2 separate regions of the Homo sapiens genome follow, and region 2 is linked to region 1. Evidence: fine-mapped expression QTL. A gene starts in region 1. The other region holds a variant in brackets. All regions are shown on one strand. Distances are between the middles of the regions. Region 1 holds the start of MARK4 (microtubule affinity regulating kinase 4). Region 2 overlaps MARK4 (microtubule affinity regulating kinase 4).

The links. PIP is the estimated chance that this variant, and not a neighbour inherited with it, causes the effect.
Region 2: its variant is fine-mapped to the expression of MARK4 in whole blood (INTERVAL, PIP 0.98).

Annotation. Positions count from the first base shown.
Region 1 is chr19:45,245,789-45,256,425 of GRCh38, reverse strand. It overlaps MARK4 (microtubule affinity regulating kinase 4), which reads right to left and starts at 5,155. Exons shown (of 17, transcript NM_001199867.2): 1 at 4,787-5,155. The coding sequence starts at 4,837. RefSeq lists enhancers at 3,691-4,247, 10,329-10,637 and silencers at 4,721-4,870, 5,101-5,480.
Region 2 is chr19:45,291,580-45,302,216 of GRCh38, reverse strand. It overlaps MARK4 (microtubule affinity regulating kinase 4), which reads right to left. Exons shown (of 17, transcript NM_001199867.2): 14 at 7,765-7,868; 15 at 4,263-4,541; 16 at 2,362-2,406. Among named protein-coding and RNA genes, the nearest start is that of CKM, 26 kb to the left of the region's middle. RefSeq lists a silencer at 10,381-10,583. The variant A/G (reference allele first, on the strand shown) is at 6,033.

The DNA of each region.
Region 1 (10,637 bases):
CACTCTTGTTGCCCAAGCTGGAGTGCAGTGGCCCAGTCTGGCTCACTGCAACCTCTGCCTCCTGGGTTCAAGCGATTCTCCTGCCTCAGCTTTCCCGAGTAGCTGGGATTACAGGCATGTGCCACCACACCTGGTTAATTTTGTATTTTTAGTAGAGACGAGGTTTCATCATGTTGGCCAGGTTGGTCTTGAACTCCTGACCTCAGGTGATCCACCCACCTCGGCCTCCCAAAGTGCTGGCATTACAGGCCTGAGCCACCACCCCCTGCAGGGTAACCAAGTCTTTCACTGGCCCTGAGACCTGGTTGAATCCCTGTTATCCTCCTTCCATGGGAAACACTGTTGCTTCTGCCACCCCCTGAAACACCCAGGGCTTGAGAAGCGCCCTGACTTGCTGTCTCCCACACCATGGCTTCTCTCCTCCTGATGTTCTGTTCCTACTGTCCTGTCCCTCCCTGGCCTCTCTCCCCCGCAGGTCACCTGCCTGCTCTGAGCTGCCCTGGCCTGATTGGAAGCCCCAGGGACTGTCTCCCTTTCAGGGCTGGGGCTCAGGGTGCCTGAGGCCTCCCGCCAAGGCAGTTCTGCCTGTGCCCTTCCGGCTGGGAGTGGGAAGCAGGAGGACAACAGGAGGGGAGGAAGAAAGGCCAAGAGGCTGATGGGCTGGGGGCCCAAGTCTCTGAGAAAGACACTGCCGGGCCACTTGATAGCAACGACAACTAACGTTTAATTAATGCTGGTCATTGATGCAATATGAGGCCATTACCACACTATTATCTCCATTTTACAGGTGGGGAAAGTGAGACCCGGACCCACGATCTGAACCCAAACAGTTTCCACCAGTATTTTTTTTTTTTTTTTTTTTTTTTGGCAGAGTTTCACTCTTGTTGCCCAGGCTGGAGTGCAATGGCACGATCTCAACTCACTGCAACCTCCACCTCCTGGGTTCAAGCAATTCTCCTGCCTCAGCCTCCCGAGTGGCTGGGATTACAGACGCCCGCCACCACAACCGTCTAATTTTTGTATTTTTAGTAAAGAGGGGGTTTCACCATGTTGGCCAGGCTGGTCTTGAACTCCTGACCTCAGGTGATCTGCCCACCTCGGCCTCCCAAAGTGCTGGGATTACAGGCATGAGCCACCGTGCCCGATAGTTTCCACCAGACTTGATGCTCTTCTCTGTCACAATACCACACTGCCTCTCACACCTGAACCTTTTTTTTTTTTTTGAGACAGGGCCTTGCTCTGTTACCCAGGCTGAAGTGCAGTGGTGTAATCAAGGCTCACTGGAGCCTCAACTGCCTGGGTTCAAGCAAATCCTCCCATCTCAGGCTCCTGAGTAGCTGGGACCACAGGAGTGCACCACCACACACAGCTGATTTTTAAATTTTTTTGTAGAGATGGAGTCTTGCTATGTTGTCCGGGCTAGTCTTCAGCTCCCAGGCTCAAGCCATCCTCCTGCCTGGGTCTCCCAAAGTTCTGGGATTATAGGTGTGAGCTACCACGCTGGGTCATGAACCATTTCTACAAAGCAGCTCATGCTATGGACCAAGTCCTGTGTAAACAGGTAACTCGCCTACACTTAATTCCTGCAGTAGCCCAGGGAATGACTCCATGTTCCAGCAGAGAAACTGAGCCTTGGAGAGGGAAGGTGCCATGTGAAGGTCACACAGTCCATTCACAGGGGCAGAAAGACAACCTCCCCACAGCTGGGCAGTTCCAACCACCACGGCCAGGGCTCTAACCACGCGTCCGCCACTGCCTGCCGTGCCCTCACCCTGGCCTCCAATGTGGGTCCAATTATGATCTGCAGTCTTCAGACGGGGACACCCAGGCTCAGGCAGGGGGAGTCCCTCCCCCAAGGTCACAGGGCAGATGGAGCAGAGTGCTGGGATGCGAACCCCGGCCTGCTGATTCCTCCTGAGTGCTGAGCCAGGCTTCCCCACAGGCCCAGGCTTCTTCCCAGGAGAGACCAGGGAGGCAGGTGGAGATCCTGGAGATAAGGCCTCCGATCCCCACCAAGATAAGGACCTGGAGAAGAAGCCCTGTCAGGTGGCGCCAGGGCAGCCAGCTGGAGGTGGGATGGCACCACGCTGAAGGCAGCATGGCTGAGGGACCCCTGCGAGGGGCAGCTGGGGCAGTGGGTGACAAAGCCCCTGGGGGCCGGGGGTGGGAGCTAAAATTGGCCTGCACCACCAGCTGGCCTGGCTCCCTCCCGCCCGGCTGGCGCCCCAACACCCGGGACTGTTGCTAGGGAACCTGGGGAGGCTGGCCCCCTGGTGGGGGGCCCTGGAACTTGGGGTGGGGGAGCATGACCCCACGTGGCTGTAGCCATGGTAACCAGGTAACAGGAGAGGGGGCTGCAACCTCCCATTCCAGAGGCAGGCAAGTGACTCCCCACCAGGACTGACAGGCAGGTCTTAGTGACAAGAGTTGGAGGAGAGAAAAGGGGATTAGCCATCCTCAAATCCGCACCATGCACGCATCTTAACAACCCAGGGAACAGCAAGTCTTCATTAGGCGTTCCACTTAACAGACAAGGAAACCAAGGCTCAGAGAGGTAAGGTTACTTGCCCGAGGTCACACAGCTAGGGAGGGACAGAAACAGGATGTGAACCCAAGTTTATCTGAACAATTAAAGTAGTGCTAATAACCACAACAGCCACGACACATGCCAGGCCCTGTGCACCTTAGTCACATCACGTCGCTGGCTCCTGCAAACATCCCTAACAGTGGGGGGCCATCATCAACCCGATTTAGAGATAAGGAAACTGAGGCTGCAAGCTGGGAGTGAATCTGCAGGCTCACTCAACAACCAATAACAGCCCTGAGCTGAGAATCCACGGGCTGTCTGACTCATACCCACAGCCACAATAGCAGCTGGCATTTGTGGAGTGCTTCCTAGGTGCCAGCCTTCGCCTGAATCGAGTAAGCCTTGGAGGCACTCAAGCGGTCACCCCTATTTTCCAGGGCAGGAAACTGAGGCTCAGAAAGGGAGAACTGGTTGTCTGAGGACACAAGGCAAACCAGCTGGCCATGTCAGCATTGGAACCCAGGACTGTGGAGCCCCTGGCACCTCACTGTAGATTGTAGTGACCAAGGAACAGAGGTGGTAGGCATTTCATTAGACTCCAAATTGGAGTTCTGGCCCATAGTGATGATGCGGGGTGGTCTCTGTGAGGGAGGGATCTGCAAGATGAGGAAGGGACAGATATAAATCTCTCTGATGGTGTGTGTGTGTGGGGGGGTCTGTCGGAGGTGAGGGAAACAGGGGGAAGGGGAACAGGGACCTGGCAGAAGGATTTGGAGAAAGCCACAAAGATCCCAGGTGGGGAGAAGTCTAGGATTGGGTGGTGGGCAGGTCTTTGGAAGTGATCAGTGATCAGAGACACAGGAGATGGGGAGGGGCCTCTCTGGGAAGCAGTGTAGGGGCAGGGGGCGCCTGGGAATGGTGGAAAGTGACAAAGCCATGGGGGCAGTGGAAGTCAGAGGCCAGGAATCCCTGGGTCTTGGGGAAGCTCCTAGGAATCAGAGAAGGGGGCTTCTAGGAGAAGTCCTTGAAACCAGAGAAGGGTCTGGGGGGCCTGGAAGTATGGGGTAGGAACTTCTTGGGCAAGGAGCAGCCCAGATGAATAAAGGCTGAGCCCTGGGGAAGGTCAAGGGGTCTAGAAATTTGGGGAGAAAGCTTCCAGCAGATTGACCCAAGGGAAAAGGGCTTGAAACCAGGGCAAGACGAGAGGCTTCAGGTCCAGGAGTTTTCTGGAAGAAGGATCTGGGGCCAGGCCCTGTAGCTGAGGAAGGCCTCTGAAGCTGAGGAGGGGGCTTCCTTGGAAGGCCAGACTCCCAGCAAGGAAGGGGGAGGCCCTGGGGCAGGAGAAAGGACGGTGGTTTGTGGGGAAGGGGTCTGAGTTTGGCCTAGCAGGGGGTCCAGAGGTTGGGGGTTGGGGAAGGGGCTGCCTGAAGCTGAGAAGTTGATAGAGGGCGGATGAGGCCTGGAGTCAGACTGGTCCAGGGCCTAGAAATACCAGCCTGGGTGAGGTGAGGGCCTAGAAGTTGGAGGCCAAGGCTTCCTGGGAGAGGAAGAGACCAGAAAGGGTCCAGGTGGCATCTGGGGGCCCCGGGGTGCTGGGATCTAGGGACAGGGCTGCTTGGAAGATGGGGACCAGGCCTGGGACGGGAGAGACCTTGAAGAAGCCAGAAAAGGGCCGGGGCCCAGGAGAGGTGGAAACCAGCTTCCTGCCAGGGGCTGCCCACAGGCGCCCTGGGTGCGTCCTGGAGGGGCAGAGGGCTGGGAATAAGAGGAGGGGGGCTCCTGGGGAGCCGGCACCCAGCCCCAGACAGGGAAGGCCGGAGCCAGAGGCAGGACTGGGCCAGGCCCTGCTGAGAGTGCCAGGGCCGGGCCTTGGGGGGTCAGGGGCCCTGCAAATCCGGGAGGGGGCGAGGTGTCGGACGCGGACGGCCTGGAGGGGAAACGGCTTAGCACAGGCAAGAGAAGGGAGGGGCTCCTGGAAGCAGGGGAAGGGGCTTCCTGGAGGGAACAGACCCGAGCGGAAGCGGTCTGCACGGGGACAAGAGAGGGGTCCCGAGAGAGGGGCGCCCCCAGGGGTCGGGCTGGGCTGGAAAAGGTGGGGAGGGTGGAGAGGCCTGGAAGTCCGGGAGGGGTCGAGAGGTGACGAGCCGGGTCGGGCCCAGGAAACGAGGGTAGGGGCTCGCGGGGCGAGGGGTACAACGGGGAGAAGGGTTTGGCGGCTGGACCCAGCCAGGGCTCCCCAAGGGGCCGGGCCCCACTCACCGTGTCCGAGTTCCGATCGTTGCCCGGGGCCAGCACCGTCCGCGAAGACATCTTCTCCGGGTCCCGGGGGGCAGGGGCGGCCGGGTGGGGGGGGCGGGGGTCCCAGGGTCCCCTCTCTTCCCCTCCCCCCCCGCCGGCCTGGGGACGCGAGCTCAAAAGCTGGGCGCCGAGAACGCCCGGGTCCGCGCGGCGGGAGAGGGGGCAGGGCGGGGGAGGGGAAGGGACGCCGAGGGTCCTAGTGGCCCCGTGCAGCGGGGACCCCGGGCGCCATGGGGGCGGCGGGCAGGCGGGCGGGCGGGGGCCGCGGAGGGGGCGCGGAGCCGGCCCAAGCGGCGGCGGAGGGAGGCGGTGGAGGGGCTGGGGAGGGAGGAAGGGACGTCAGGGGGAGGGGCGGGCAGGGCGGGGCGCCGGGACCCCGCCCCCCGCCGCCGGCCCTTAAAGGCGCAGGCCCGGGCTGGTCGGGGCGCCGGGGGCTCCGGGGGCTCCGGGGGCGGAGGCGGGTCTGGGCACGCCGGCGGGGAGCGTGTTCTCGCCCGAGACGAGAGGCGCACTGGAGAGGAGAGAAGGGGAGAGAGAGGCCGGGGCAGAGCGCCAGAGACGCAGAGAGAGAGATCGAGAGACGTAGAGATAGAGAGACACGAAGAGAGAGAGACGAGTTACAAAAGGGTGGAGAGGCGCAAGGAGATGAAGGAAGAGCCAGATGACAGAGAGAGAGAGACGCAGGGAGACAGAGACAGAGAGACCCAGAGACGCAGAGGGACAAAGACTGAGAGAGACCCCACACACACACAGGGAGAGACAAAGAGATACAGAGACGCAGAGATCTGTGAAGAGATAGAGATAAAGGGACTGAGCCAGAGAAGACCCCAGAGGCGCTGCCCACATTGTCCCTCCCCCTGGCCCATTCTCTCCCCAGTTGGCGGGGGGGAGCGGGGGAAGCTCTCCCCTCGGAGGCCTAAGGGTGGGGTGGGTGAAGGGGATGGTGTGCGGGGCTTGGCCACTGCTGAGGGCTCAGTGACCTCCCTAGTCAGGCTGCCTCCACTCAGCCACATAGATCCAGACCCGCAGGTTGGGGCTGCAGCATCCACTCCTTTGCACCCCAGCTGGGGTGTGGGGACCCTCTCTGTCCACCTGTATGACCCGGGGCAAGCACTTGCCCTTTCTGGGCTTCACTTTCCCAGTTTGTAAAGTGAAAGGAAGAATCCGTGTGTTGCTCACTGGCAGGTGCGAAGGAACCCTGTGCAGGTATTCGCCTGCAGGGCACAGCCACTCCCCATGCGGGCAGGCTGAGACCAGAGAGGACAAGAGCCTCTCGGAGGCCACACAGCGCTGTGGGGACCATCCATGCTCTGTGGACCAGGGTGGGATGAAAGAAAGACAGGCATTACATAGTCTTGGCCTGGGAGTCACATGGTTTTGGGAAGGGGTCTGTGCCCTGCCTTCTTCTATCTGAGGCTTATTTTCCTGAGCCTCAGTTTCCCCTTCTAAAACAGCAGTGTGCTGGATCTGGCTGGAGCGAGCTGATTGTTATGTCTCAGGAATTTTGGAACTGGTTGTTAAACACAGCCATTATTAAAAATTAAATTATGCAAACATACAATTAAATTACATTAAAGGTACAAGTAATACATACTCATCACGTCCTAGTTATCTTACTACATTTGCCATTATCTGTGATCTTGAGGTTACCTACGTCTATTGTAGCTGCACAGTAAAATTACTATATAATGGGGGGCAAAAATGCCATGTGATATCACCTTGGTAGCTTGAAATTAGCCATGGTGGGAATATTTACACCATGGAAATTGGCAAATGCTACAAATTAAGGCTCCACACCCCCACCTGCAGAGAGCTGGGGGTGTTTTGTTTTGCTTTGCTTTGTTTTGTTTTTGAGACAGGGTCTCACTGCATTACCCAGGCTAGAGTGCAGTGGCACGATTATGGCTCACCGCAGCCTGGACATCCCCGGCTCAAGCAATCCTCCCAGCTCAGCCCCACCAAGTCACTGGGACTACAGGTGTGCACCACCACGCCCAGCTAATTTTTTGTAGCCATATTGCCCAGGCTGATCTCCAACTCTCAGGCTCAGGCGATCCTCCCACTTCGGCCTCCTAAAGTGCTGGGACTACCCTGCACTCAGCCAAAAGCTGGTTGTGAAAGCACAGCACTGCTTGATACTATGAGCAACACAGACTCATGGCAGTTGCCCTTGTGCCAGGCTCTGAGCAGTTTCTCCTTTCTGCCACCCCAAGAGGTAGGGAGCATCTTTATCAATCCCATTTGCAGATGAGGAAACAGAGGCCCAAGGAAGGGAGAAACGTCACACGCTGAAGGTCACACGGCAAATTAGTGGCAGGGCTACAATTTGAATCCAAGTGCTCCCAAGTTCCAGAACTTGGACCCTCTCTCAACCACTGTGGTTTCCTGTCTCCGAAAAATAATAGCAGCAACCTCAGGCTGCTACTATTTTTATTTGTCAATTTGTTTATATTTATTTGTTATTTTAATGTTACTGCTAACAAATAAATGAGAATCTTTGAGTAAAGTGCTTCACAGGGGACCAGATTCAAAATTCATATGTGGGGACATTATTATTACTATTTGGCAAATATGGCCCGAGGAGCCTCAGGGACAGTGGCAGAGAGGGTGGAGTTCCGGGGTAGTGTTCTAGACGTACTGTGATCCCAGGGACGCCGCAGGGTGAAAGTGGGGGTCTTGGGGGTAGGCTAGAGGGGCTGAGCGCCCCCAACCCGTTCCCTGCATTGGCGCTGAGAGCTGCAGTTCTACCGTGCACCACACGGGGGCAGCCGATCACCTCCCTACACGCGCCCCACACACTCCAGGGTCCACCCCTGCCCTCCCTTCCCCAACAGCGTCCCCACCCCATTTCCCAGATGTGGGGGGACCGAGGCTTACAGAGAGGGAGGCTGCAAAGTGGATGAACCTTGAAAACAGCATGTGGCCGGGCGCGGTGGCTCACGCCTGTAATCCCAGCACTTTGGGAGGCCGAGGCGGGCGGATCACGAGGTCAGGAGATCGAGACCACGGTGAAACCCCGTCTCTACTAAAAATACAAAAAATTAGCCGGGCGCGGTGGCGGGCGCCTGTAGTCCCAGCTACTCAGGAGGCTGAGGCAGGAGAATGGCGTGAACCCGGGAAGCGGAGCTGGCAGTGAGCTGAGATCGCGCCACTGCACTCCAGCCTGGGCGGCAGAGTGAGAATCCGTCTCAAAAAAGAAAAAAAGAAAACAGCATGTTTAGCGAAAGAAGTCAGACGCAAAAGACCACTTACTGTATGCTTCCATTCATATGAAATATTCAGAATTGGCAAATCCATAGACAGAAAGTAGATTAATGGTTGCCAGGGGTTGGAGGCTGGGGAATGAGAAATGACTGCTGATGGGTACCAGGTTTCTTTTTGGGGTGATGAGAATGTTCTGGAATTAAATAGTGGTGACGCTTGCTGCAACCTTGTGAATATACTAAAACCTACCGGACTCTGTTTGAAAAGGGTGACTCTTATGTATGTGAATTGTATTTCAATAAAAAATAATAATAAAATTTAAAAAGGGGGCTGGACGCGGTGACTCACACCTGTAATCCCCGTACTTTGGGAGGCCAGAACGGGAGGATCACTTGAGCCCAGGAGTTCGAGACCAGCCTGGGCAACATAGTGAGACCCTGTCTCTAAATCAAAATAAAAAAAATAATTTTTAAAAAGGAGGGGGACGGGCACGGTGGCTCACGCCTGTAATCCCAGCCCTTTGGGAGGCCGAGGCGGGCAGATCACGAGGTCAGGAGATCGAGATCATCCTGGCTAACACAGTGAAAACCTGTCTCTACTAAAAAAAATACAAAAAATTAGCCGGGCGCTTGCAGGTGGCAAGCGCCTGCGTCCCAGCTACTCGGGAGGCTGAGGCAGAAGAATTGCTTGAACCCAGGAGGCGGAGGTTGCAGTGAGCAGAGATCACGCCACTGCACTCCAGCCTGGCGACAGAGCAAGACTCCGTCTCTAAATAAATAAATAAATAAATAAATAAATAAGGCGGGGTGGAAATCCTGCACGATCCCAGTACATGATGGGCCACTGCTGACCATGGGTCCGCGGTGCAGAGGCCGAGCTGGGGGGCAAGGCCTGTTCCTCTGCCTCCCGACCTGGTCATCCAGCTAGCCCTTCCTCCACAACCTATGTCTGGTGAATTCATTCCTTCAACTGGGGCATTCAGACCTTTGAATCTTAACCCTTGGATCCAGGAGGGAGCTGTGATCCCTAAGCCCAGCCCCCGATCCTAATGTTGACCCCAACCCTGATCCCAGCCTGGACTTTGCCTAGGCCAGTGATCACGCATCCCCCTCAGGCTGTGCCTGAGCACTTGAACACAGTTTATCTTATTTATTTATTTGTTTGTTTGTTTATTTGAGATGGAGTCTCACTCTGTCTCACAGGCCGGAGAGTGCAGTGGCACAATCTCGGCTCACCGCAACCTCTGCCTCCTGGGTTCAATCGATTTCTTCCGTCTCAGCCTCCCGAGTAGCTGGGATTACAGGTATGCACCACCACACCTGGCTAATTTTTGTGTTTTTAGTAGAGGCAGGGTTTCATCAGTTTGGCCAGGCTGGTCTCAAACTTCTGACCTCAAGCGATCCACCCACCTTGGCCTCCCAAAGTGCTGGGATTATAGGCATAAGCCACTGCAACCAGCCCAGTTTTATTTATTTAAAAAAAATTTTTTTTTTCTTAATTTTTGAGACAGGGTCTCTCTCTGTCACCCAGGCTGGAGCGCAGTGGCGAGATCATGGCTCACTGCAGCCTCCACCTCCCAGGATCAAGTGATCCTCCCACTTCAGCTCCCTTAGTAACTAGGACTACAGCGTGCCACCACACTTGGCTAATTAAAAAAATTTTTTTTTTTGTAGAGACGGGGTCTTGCTATATTATCAGGCTGGTCTTGATCTCCTGGGCTCAAGCAATCCCCCTGCCTTGGCTCCCAAAGTGCTGGAATTACAGGCATGAGCCACCACACATGGCCCTAGCCTTTTAAAGTAACCCTGACTCTCATACCCAACCCCACCCAGCACCAGCTCCAGCCCCAGCCCTCACTTCACTTGGCATCCCAACTCTAGCAGGAAGTCCATCTCCAAACCCACCTCCAACCCTCAGCTTCATTTAAATTCATTTAAATCTTGACTACTGAGGGCCAGGCACGCAGCTAGGCTTATAAAGATGAACAGGATCAACAAAGTGAGCTTTGCTGAGTTTATCTGCAAGGAATCCAGTTGCATCTGATAATTTCAGATTGTAGAAGGTGCAATAAAGAAATTGACAGGCTGGGCACAGTGGCTTACGCCTGTAATCCCAGCACTTTGGGAAGCCGAGGCAGGAGGATGGCTTGAGGCCAGGAGTTTGAGACCAGCCTGGAGAACCTAATGAGACCCGTGTCTCTACAAAAAATACAAAAATTAGCTGGGCATGGTGGTGCATGCCTGTAGTCCCAGCTACTCAGGAAGCTGAGGTGGGAGGATCTCTTGAGTCTGGGAGATCCAGGCTGCAGTAAGCTATTGTTACGCCACTGCACTCCAGCCTGGGCAACAGAGCAAGACTCTGTCTCAGGAAAAAAAAAAAGAAAAATAAATTGACAAAGCAGAGTGACGACTCTGTGAGACGGGACAGTGGAGAACAGAGGAAGAGACTGTGGGGCTGGAACTGGGATGATGAAAAGGAGGGCCTCATGCAGAGACCTGGGTACAGGGGCTTCTAGACAAAGAGAACCACAATTCCAAAGCCATGTCCAGTGCCCTCCTCCATAGGTCCCCCTCCCCAGCCCCTGGGCCCAGCAAAACTTCCCTCCTGG
Region 2 (10,637 bases), 46 kb before region 1:
AGCTGCCCAGCTAGAGACCACACTTTCCAGCCTCCCTTGCAACCAGGTGTGACCTTGTCTGTAAATTCTGGGACATGAGCAGAAGTGAGATGTGCCATCCACATCAGTTCCTTCAAAGAACCTGCATGTGCCAGGCTCTCCTGTCCCACATCTCCCAGGAGCTGGACTTAGCAGTGGCACAGGCCAGCCTCAACTGTGAAGATGACAAGGGCTCCAGGGAATCGGGATGCAATAACCTGGGGACCTGAATGACCGCATAGATCACAGTGGCCTTACCAGCCTGGCTTGGCCACATGGTTTGAATGTTTGAATGAGAAATTTCTTTTTCCTTTTCTTTTTTTTTTTTTTTTTGAGACGGAGTTTTGCTCTTGTTACCCAGGCTGGAGTGCAATGGAACGATCTCGGCTCACCACAACCTCCGCCTCCTGGGTTGAAGCGATTCTCCTGCCATAGCCTCCTGAGTAGTTGGGATTACAGGCACGCGCCACCACGCCTGGCCCCAGCTAATTTTTGTATTTTTAGTAGAGACACGGTTTCACCGTGTCAGCCAGGATGGTCTCGATCTCCTGACCTTGTGATCTGCCCGCCTCGACCTCCCAAAGTGCTGGGATTACAGGTGTGAGCCACTGCGCCCGGCTTTTTTTTTTTTTTTTTTTTTTGAGACAGAGTTTCGCTCTTGTCGCCCAGGCTGGAAGGCAATGACACAATCTTGGCCCACTGCAACCTCTGCTTCCCGGGTTCAAGCAATTCTCCTGCCTCAGCTTCCCAAGTAGCTGGGAGAACAGGCACCACGGCCAGCTAATTTTTGTATTTTTAGTAGAGACGGAGTCTCACCATGTTGGGCAGGCAGGTCTTAAACTCCCGGCCTCAGGTGATCCACCTGCCTTGGCCTCCCAAAGTGCTGGGATTACAGGCGAGAGCCACAGTGCCCGGCCACTTCTTAGTTTTTTTGAGACAGGGTCTTGCAATGCAGTAGTGCAATCACAGCTCACTGCAGCCTCGACCTCCTGGGCTCAAGTGATCCTCCTGCCTTGGCCTCCTGAGTTGTTGGAATTACAGGCATAAGCCACTGTGCTCGGCCTCTGGGGGCTTTTTGATTGTCACATGTCTTAGGATGGGAGCACTGCTGGCACTGACTAGGTTGGGGATGGGGTAGGTCAGGAATGAAAAACATTCTCCAATGTGCAAGAGGGCCCTGCACAACAAAGAAACGTCCCGCCTGAAGTACGAGAGTGCTGCTCTACATGAGCATCCCAGGACTAGCCTCCCTTGTTCCGGTGGGGCCGCCCCTCAGCTTGGGTGAGCACGACTCAGCTCTGCCAATGATAGCATTCTACTTCCCGGCCACTGTGCTTGGGTCAAGGGTGACCACATGACCAGGTCTGACCAACCAGAGTACTTCTCCTCTCTGGCTGCAGGCATTGGTTTAGGAATGAGCATGTGACCAAGTCCCAACCAATGAGAGTCAGCCCTGGCAGTTTGTTGCAGCTGCTGGGAAGGCTCCGGTTTCCACTTGGGTCTCTAAACCGGGAACTCAGACAAAACCAGGGCTTGGCAAACTCCAGTGCTGTCTGCTTTTGTAAATAAAGTTTCATTGGAACACTGCCATACCCATTTGTTTTGTGTTGAATATGACTGCTTTTGCACTACAATGGCACAACTGAACAGGCGTGACACAGGGTGCCTGGCCCTCAAAGCCTAAAATCTTCATGATCTGGGTCCGTACAGATGTTTGCCTCCTGCTGGCCCTGAGCTGCCAGCAAACATTGTGCCATGACTGGATGAGAGGCAAAAGGAGGTGGGGGCATTGACCAGAAGAGGAGTTGAGTTGTGGATGGGATGAGGCTTTTTTTTTTTTTTTTTTTTTTTTTTCAGACGGAGTTTCACTCTTGCTACCCAGGCTGGAGTGCGATGGCACAATCCAGCTCACCGCAACCTCTGCCTCCCGGGTTCAAGCGATTCTCCTGCCTCAGCCTCCCGAGTAGTTGGGATTACAGGCATGCGCCACTACGCCCGGCTAATTTTTGTATTTTTAGTAACGACGGGGTTTCTCCATCTTAGGCTGGTCTCAAACTCCCGACCTCAGGTGATCTGCCTCCCTTGGACTCCCAAAGTGCTGGGATTACAGGCTTGGGCCATGGCACCCAGCCGGAGGCTGAAGTTTAAGATGATCAAGGGAAGGTGCTTGGGGTTGGGTGGGAATGAGAGGAGCTGGCAGAGAAGGCTGGGGCCACAGGGCATTTCAGGAAGTTGGCCTTGCAGGATGAGACTGGGGCCCCATCTAATGCCCTGGGGTAAGTGTCGGGAGGTGCTGAGGCAGGAGAGGGGAAGTGGCAGTCAGGGGTAGGCCCAAGCACTCACCTTGTGACCTCAGGTCCCCCGATTCTCTCAGGTTCGTCTGCGACCCTAGGGGAGGGGAGGGGGACAGAGTGTCTAATCTGGACATAGGGAACCCACCTCCCGCAACCCACTGCCTCTGGGACTCCAAGCAGCCCCTGCCTCAACCCCAGTCCCTCCGGGCTGGTGAGGGCCTGGAGTCAGGATTTGATCTCCTTGTCCATCCCCATAACGGGGCTCATTCTGAAATGGTTAGTGCAGGTCACAGGAAAGATACTGAAGAATGTGGAAGATGAAAGGGAGGGGAGTGGGCAGAGACACACCCTTACATAGATAAGTGGCCACAGAGAGAAAGAGAGAGACACACGCACGTGTGCACACACACACACTCCCTCGCTCACATATACATTCATGCTTTGCTCAAACAACACCTCCTTCGTGAGGCCTGCCCTTTTTTCTTTTTTTGAGACAGAGTCTCACTCTGTCATGCAGGAGTGGCGTGATCTCAGCTCGCTGCAGCCTCAACCTCCCAGGCTCAAGCAATCTTCCTGCCTTGGCCCCTGAAGTAGCTGGGACTACAGGCGCGTGCCACATCTGCTTTTTGTTTTTTGTTTTGTTTTGTAGAGATGGGGCTTTGCCACATTGCCCAGGCTGGTCTCAAACTCCTGGACTCAAGTCATCTGTCCAAAGTGCTGGGATTGCTGGCCTGAGCCACCTCATCCAGAGGCCTGCCCATTTAATGCTGCACCCCATCCCTTCCCCACACCCCTTATTCCCCTCCCTGTTCAATTTTTTTTTTTTTTTTTTTTTTTTTTAGAGACAGGTTCTCCCTCTGTTGCCAAGACTGATGATCATAGCTCACAGCAGCCTTGACCTCCTGCGTTCAAGTGATCCTCCTGCCTCGGCCTCCCAATTCCATGGGAATACAGGTGCAGTCACCACGCCCGGCCAATTTATTTACTTTTTTGTAGAGATAGGATCTTGCTACGTTGTCCAGGCTGGTCTTGAACTTCTGGGCTCAAGTGATCCCCTCGCCTCAGCCTCCCAAAGTGCTGTGATTACAAGCATAAGCCACCAAATTTGGCTCCTACTCTATTTTTCTTCTTAGTTACTTCGCACTACCTAGCAGTCTATATAGTAAGTATATTTTACTTATTTCTTTGTTTTTTGTCTAGATCCCTTAGTAGAATGTTGGGTCTGCCAGGGCAGGAGTTTTGTACATTTTGCTCACCCTCTACTACAGGGCCTAGGACAGTGCCAGGCACACAGTAGGGGCTCAATGAATAATAGCAATTAATAACTAATACACATGTAAAGCACTTTCCAAGGCAATGTTCTACGCTCAGTCCATACGTCACTTCATTTAGTCCTCACAATAACCCTAGGAGACAGGTATTGTTATTACTATACCCATTTTACAGAAGAGGAAAACCAGGCCCAGAGACCTTGAGTGACTTGCTCAAGGTCACTTGGCAGAGCTGCCATTTGAACCCCCGAGTCTGGCTCCATAGGCTGTGCTTCTGTGAGTAAATGAACAACCAGACCCCACGCACAGACCCTCACATCCACAGAGCCCCCTCCCAATGCCCGCACACACAGGTCAGACATGCAGGCAGGGAGGCAGAGCCAGCGAGAACAGGGCATGGACGGGACTTACTGATCTTGGATCCCTGGGGCAGAGAGGCGCCCGAAACACAGCGGTTAGAGTTCTGCCGTTTAGAGGGATCGAGGGTAACCCTGCAGTGTGAGGAGGGAGGTGAGGGGTGACAGGGGAGGAGGAAAGGAGGAGGAGGAGGAGGAAACGAGGAGGAGGAGGAGGAGGAAGAGGAAATGTTGGGGTACAGGAGACAGAGCAGAGTGGAAGACAGGTTAGGTCCCATCGGCCCCCCGCCCCGCCCTGCCCCTGCCATCCCCGCGGAGCTCACCTTCGGGTCAGTTTGGAGGTCAGCTTGGTGAAGAGGTTGGTGGTGGGGCGGGGCCGCCCGGCGGGCAGGGGTGCAGCCTCATGGGCCAGTGTGGGAGAGGCAGGGGGCCCATTCTGCACACCCCCACCACCCCCACCCCCTGCCCGCCGGTCCCGGACCTGGCCACCATGGAAGGTGCTGCGGATGGTGGAACCACGTGCCAGGCGGCTCCGCTCCCCTGATGGGGGTGCCAGGCTGTGACTGGAGGGGGAGGCAGGGGGCACCCGTGGGGTGCCTGAGCTGTGGGCAGAGACAGACAAGTCAGGGTGGGGGACTGAGGCAGGCCAGGGCCCCAGTCCCTTTGATTCTTCACATTCCTGTCCTGAGACCAGGGACTGCAACCAGCCTGGAACTCAGAGACAGGGCTGCAACGTACAGTTGTGCAGGCTGTGCACTATACAATCCTAGCATTATTTTACTGACTCTCTCCTCTCCTATTACCCCTCCTTCAAACTGTCCCTTCTTCAAACTCTACCCGCTCCAAATCATCTCCTATCACAACTCTCCTCTCTCTAAACGCAGCAACTGAATAGATGCACAGACATTTTTGGGTGACTTCCTTGCTATTTGCCGAAACCTCAGGAACCAAATCAACTTGGCAAACACTTTGCTATCTGAACTCTCACCATCTAAAATCAGGAAAGGGATAGATGTAAAGGTCAAGGATACCTGTATTCACTATGGTAATCTGGGCAGTGGGGGTTCCACTGTCCCAGGACCCTCCTCCAGCCCCTCGGACCCTCCTAGTCGACAGCAGGGGCCAGACCTCCATCTCCTGAGTTCAATTCTCCTGCCTCACCCTCCTGAGTAGCTGGGATTACAAGCGTGTGCCACCATGCCTGGCTAATTTTTTTTTTTTTTTTTTTTGAGACAGAGTCTCACTCTGTCACCTAGGCTGAAGGGCCATGGGGCAATCTTGGCTACTGCAACCTCTGCCTCCTGGGTTCAAGTGATTCTCCTGCCTCAGCCTCCTGAGTAGCTGGGACTATAGGCATGCAGCACCACGCCTGGGTAGTTTATGTATTTTCAGGAGAGATGGGGTTTCACCATGTTGGCCAGGCTGGTCTCAAACTCCTCACCTCAGGTGATCCACTGGCCTTGGCCTCCCAAAGTGCTGGGATTCCAGGTGTGAGCCACTGCGCCCAGCCCAGACCTCCAATTTCTATCCTCCCAGGGACTCCAGGCCCAGCCTGGATCTCAGAGAAGAATCCTGATTGTGGCAGAGGCTGTTACTTCTCCCTTAGAATCCATCCTCCCTGTTTCGTTCTTGGTAACCAAACCCCTAAGAGTATGAGCACTGCACATGGCCACCCAGCCAGAGACTACATTTCCCAGACTCTCTTGCAGCTAGAGATGGTTATGTGACCATGCTCCGGCCAATGGGATATAAGCAGAAGTGCTCTGTACCATCTCTGGGTGACGCCTTTACAAAGAGTTGTTGCTTGTCCCCTACTCTTTCCCCACTTCTTCCTGATTGGGAAATGATGGCTGCTGGTGCAGCGGCCTCAGTCCCAGAGCTGGAAACTCATTTTGGGGCTGGAAGAACTTACCTGGGTCCTTGGAGGACCCTCCGGACTAAACGTCCTTTTTATTTAAATTACTCTACCCTGGGATCTCTTTGTTTTTATTACAGCAGCTAGCTGAGTCTATACTTTTTATTTTTTGTTGTTTTTAAATTTTTTTTTAATTTTTGATTTTTTTTGTCTGAGTCTGTAATTTAACTGTTCCACT[A/G]TCTCTTGAGCAGAACTGGAAGGCCATGTACTACAGTGATTACAAATAAGATTCTGGAGTCAAGTCTGGAATCTGCTTCTTGACTTACCAGCTGTGTGGCCTTGGATAAGTTACTTAACCTCTCTGTGCCTTATGTCCTCAGCTGTAAAATGGAGATATTAGGATCTACCTCACAGAGTTGTTAGGGGCACTGAGCCAGGCAATAGACATAGAAGCCTGGCATGTAGCTGCTGCTTCATGAATGTTCACTATTGTTATTTGATAACCACCAAAAAAAAGCACTCTCAAGTCACTGAATGAAGGCCTCCTAAGCATCAGACCCAGTGCCAGGTACAGGACACACCTGATCTCTACTGCATCTCTATAATGGGGCCTGGAAGTGGACAGCATCAGCCCTTTTTTTTATGAGACGGATTCTTGCTGTGTGGCTCAGGCTGGAGTACAGTGGCGCAATCCCAGCTCACTGCAACCTCTGCCTCCCAGGTTCAAGCGATTCTCCTGCCTCATTCAGCCTTCTGAGTAGCTGGGATTACATGCACATGACATCGTTCCTGGCTAATTTTTGTATTTTTAGTAGAGACAGGGTTTCATCATGTTGGCCAGGCTGGTCTCGAACTCCTGACCTCAGGTGATCTGCCCACCTCGGCCTCACAAAGTGCTGGGATTACAGGTGTGAGCCACCATGCCCGGCCAGCATCAAGCCCATTTTACCGAGGAGGAAACAGAGGCACAGGGATTTACCCGGTCATTCTGCTAGCAGTGTGAGCACAGAGGTAAGATTCGAACTCAGAACTGAGTATTCACAGAATCGTGACTTTTTTTTTTTGAGATGGAGTCTCGCTCTGTTGCCCAGGCTGGAGTGCAGTGGCGTGATCTCGGCTCACTGCAAACTCCGCCTTCCAGGTTCACGCCATTGTCCTGCCTCTGCCTCCAGAGTAGCTGGGACTACAGGTGCCCACCACTGCACCCAGCTAATTTTTTTTTTTTTTTGGTATTTTTAGTAGAGACGGGGTGTCACCATGTTAGCCAGGATGGTCTCGATCTCCTGACTTCTTGATCCACCTGCCTCAGCCTCCCAAAGTGCTGGTATTACAGGCATGAGCCACTGTGCCTGGACAGATTTGTGACTGTTAACTACCCCATTCCTCTGCCCACACCCAGTGGGAACACCTGCACCCACTAATCAGGTGCATCCCAGAGTGTGCCCTGGTGTTGGCCATCAACCTGCCCTACAGCCCTGGTGGGGGGCAGTGTCCTCATCCTGGAGCTGGCCCCATTCTAGCTGGCCTTGACCTGTGATGTGAACCAATCCCTTCCCTCTCTCTGCTCCAGCCAGTCTGAACTGGTTTCCCTCCCTTGCCAGCTGGAAGAGACCTCACAGACTCAGGCCAACAAGCCGGAAAACCAGCCAACCAGATGACGCTGAAGCTGTGACATTCTGGGGCTTCTCTCGAGTTCTAAAAATGGATCATTCAAAAAATCAATTCAGGTTCCCAAGGCTTGTAGGCGGAGAACAGGGCCAACTGCTTTCCTGGTGCTTAAGACTAATTAATTAAGTGGGGAGGATTTTCAGGGGGGTACATGGGTCGATTCTGCCAAGGGCAGGGCAGATACACTCACTCTCTGGTCCCCATGGCACCAGCCTCCAATGCCTATCATCTCAGATCAAGGGAGGTCCTGTTCACCTACCCCCTACTTCCCACCCCTCACCCTGTTGCTGCCCCCTCCGTACCTGTTTTCTTTCCCATTTGGCAACAGTGACGGGCGCTCAGCCCCCGGGCGTTCTGTGCAAACGTAGGTGTTTCTGCGGGTCATCATGCTAGGAGGGAGGTTGTTCTGCAGGAGACACAGCCAGGAAGGGAGTGAGGGGGTGAAGACATGCCCCTGAGCTTCTCCCTCTTCCCTTCTCTGCCCTCCCCATCGATGAATAAGTCAGGGGCTCATGTGGGAACCCAGGGTGAGTAGGAGATGGTGAAAGGTCCCAAAGATGTGAAAGGTTCATGAGTAATCCCAGCCACCGAGGCTGAGTCAGGGGAGACCCCTGGAGACCGGAGAAGAGGGGGGCACTGAGGGAAAACGAGGCAGGGAAGGTTTCCAGGGGGCATCCTTGTCCACCGCTCTTCTCCCAGCAATGCCCACCTTCTTGAGGTCCAGCCCAGCCACACCAAACGTTTGCTAATGTACTTATTCATGCCACATTCTGTCACTGTGACTAGCCTGTGCACTGGCTGTCTCACCTGTTAGAACATTACTCCTACCTTTTCCCCTGACTCACTCCTACATATCTTTCAGGTGTCAGTTCATAATCTACCACCACCCCCGGCCCCAGGCTGAGTCACGTGCCTCCTCCTTTGGGTTCCCACAGGCCCCTGGGCTCCCCACTGCAGCTTCAATCACTGTGCTGTCAATGTCTGTTCTCATATATGTCCCCATCCCATACTGGGCTGTGAGCTCTGGGAACACAGGGAATATCAGGATTATGCTGCCTCATAAACATGTTAGGAAGAGAGCCCTCTTTTTCTATTCTCTGGAAGTTTGTCTAAGGTTAGTGTTATTTCTTCTTTAAGTGTTTGGAAGAATTCCACTGGTGGGAGTCATCCAAGCCAAAAATTTTCTTTATAGGGAAGGTTTTCAGTTACGAATTCAATTTCTTTAACAAGAATATAAGACTGTTCAGGTTTTCTATTTCTTCTTGTGTCAGTTTTGATACAGTGTGTTTTTAAAGTAATGTGTCCATTTCATCTAAGCTGTTAAATTTATTGGCACAAAGTAGTTCCTAATATCATCTTACTATCTTTTAATGTTAGAACAAAGTTCCCCTTTTCATTGTGGATACTGGTGATTCATGTTTGCTGTCTTTTTTCCTTAATTGATTTTTACCAGGGGTCCATTGGATTTTATTTATTTATTTATTTTTTTGGACAGAGTTTCACTCATTTTGCCCAGGCTGGAGTGCAATGGCATGATCTCAGCTCACTGCAACCTCCACCTCCCAGATTCAAGTGAACCTGCCTTAGTCTCCCGAGTAGCTGGGATTACAGGTGTGGACCACCACATCCAGCTAATTTTTTGTATTTTTGGTAGAGATGGGGTTTCACCATGCTGGCCAGGCTGGTCTCAAACTCCTGACCTCAAGTGATCCACCCGCCTCAGCCTCCCAAAGTGCTGGGATTACAGGCATGAGCCACCACGCCCAGACTGATTTTATTAATCTTTTCAAAAAACCAACTTTAGGTTTTGTTGCTTTATTGTACCTCTTCTTTCTCCTTCACTGATTTATTCTCTTTAATGCCTCCTCCCTTCTACTTTTTTTGAGATGGGGTCTTGTTCTGATGCCTAGGCTGGAGTGCAGTGGGGTGATCATGGCTCACTGCAGCCTCGACCTCCTGGCCTCAAGTGGATCCTTTCACCTCAGCCTCCCAAGTAGCTAGAACCTCAGGCATGTGCCACAACACTTAGCTAATTTTTATTTTTGGCAGAGACAGGGTCTATGTTGTCCAGGCTGGTCTTGAACTCCTGGGCTCAAGCAATCCTCCTGCCTCAGCCTCCCGAACTGCTGGGATTACAGGCATGAGCCACCAATTCCGGTCCCTTCTACTTTCTTTGAGGTTTATTTGCTTTTCCTTTTTTACCTTCTTAAGGTGTGGGTTTCGTTTAGCAATAACAATAGCTCTCATTCACTGAGTGCTTACTGTGCCAGTATGTGAAGTACTTCACGTATGAGATCTTACAAGATCCTCACAATGACCCAGGTTCTTTAATGAGCCCATTTCACATAGTGAGATATCAAAGATCAGAGAGGTGAAGTTACTTGCCCAAGGTCACACGGCTCATTAATGTAATTCAAACTCTACGTGGCTTCAGAGTCCCGGCCACTTTCTCAAACTGCCTCCACCCTTTTTCTCTTTTTTAAGAGATAGGATCTCACCATGTTGCCCAGGCTGGTCTCGAACTCCTGGCCTCAAGCAATCCTCCCACCTCAGCCTCCCAAGTAGCTGGGACTACATGTGTGTGCCACCATGTCCAGCTCTGCCTCCACTCTCCTGTTCCTATGTTGAGGATATTTTCGTACTTTGCTGTTCTTGGGAACTCAGATGCAAAAAAGCCAAGTCCTACATTTCCCAGAATCCTTTGCAGCTCAGGTTCTGCATATAAGTTGGGTTCTGCCAATCTTTGCATTCATGAAGATTTGGAAGGTGGAAATGGGGCAGCAGCTGCTCTCCTGCCTGCTTTGACTTCAGCTCACACAGGCAAGGCTATGAGATGAAGGTCTTTGCTTCAGCAGGGCCCCAGTGCCTATTGTCCAGCCCTCTGGGCATCAAGAAGCTCTTCTGATGGAGGATGAAGTTTTTGAGTCTTGGGTTACAGCCATGACAATGTGGTTTTTTGTTTTGTTTTGTTTTGAGACAGAGTCCCACCCTGTCACCCAGGCTGGAGTGCAGTAGGGCAATCTCAGCTCACTGCAACCTCCGCCTCCTAGGTTCATGCCATTCTCCTGCCTCAGCCTCCCGAGTAGCTGGGACTACAGGTGCCCGCCACCAAGCCCGGCTAATTTTTTGTATTTTTAGTAGAGATGGGGTTTCACCGTGTTAGCCAGGATGGTCT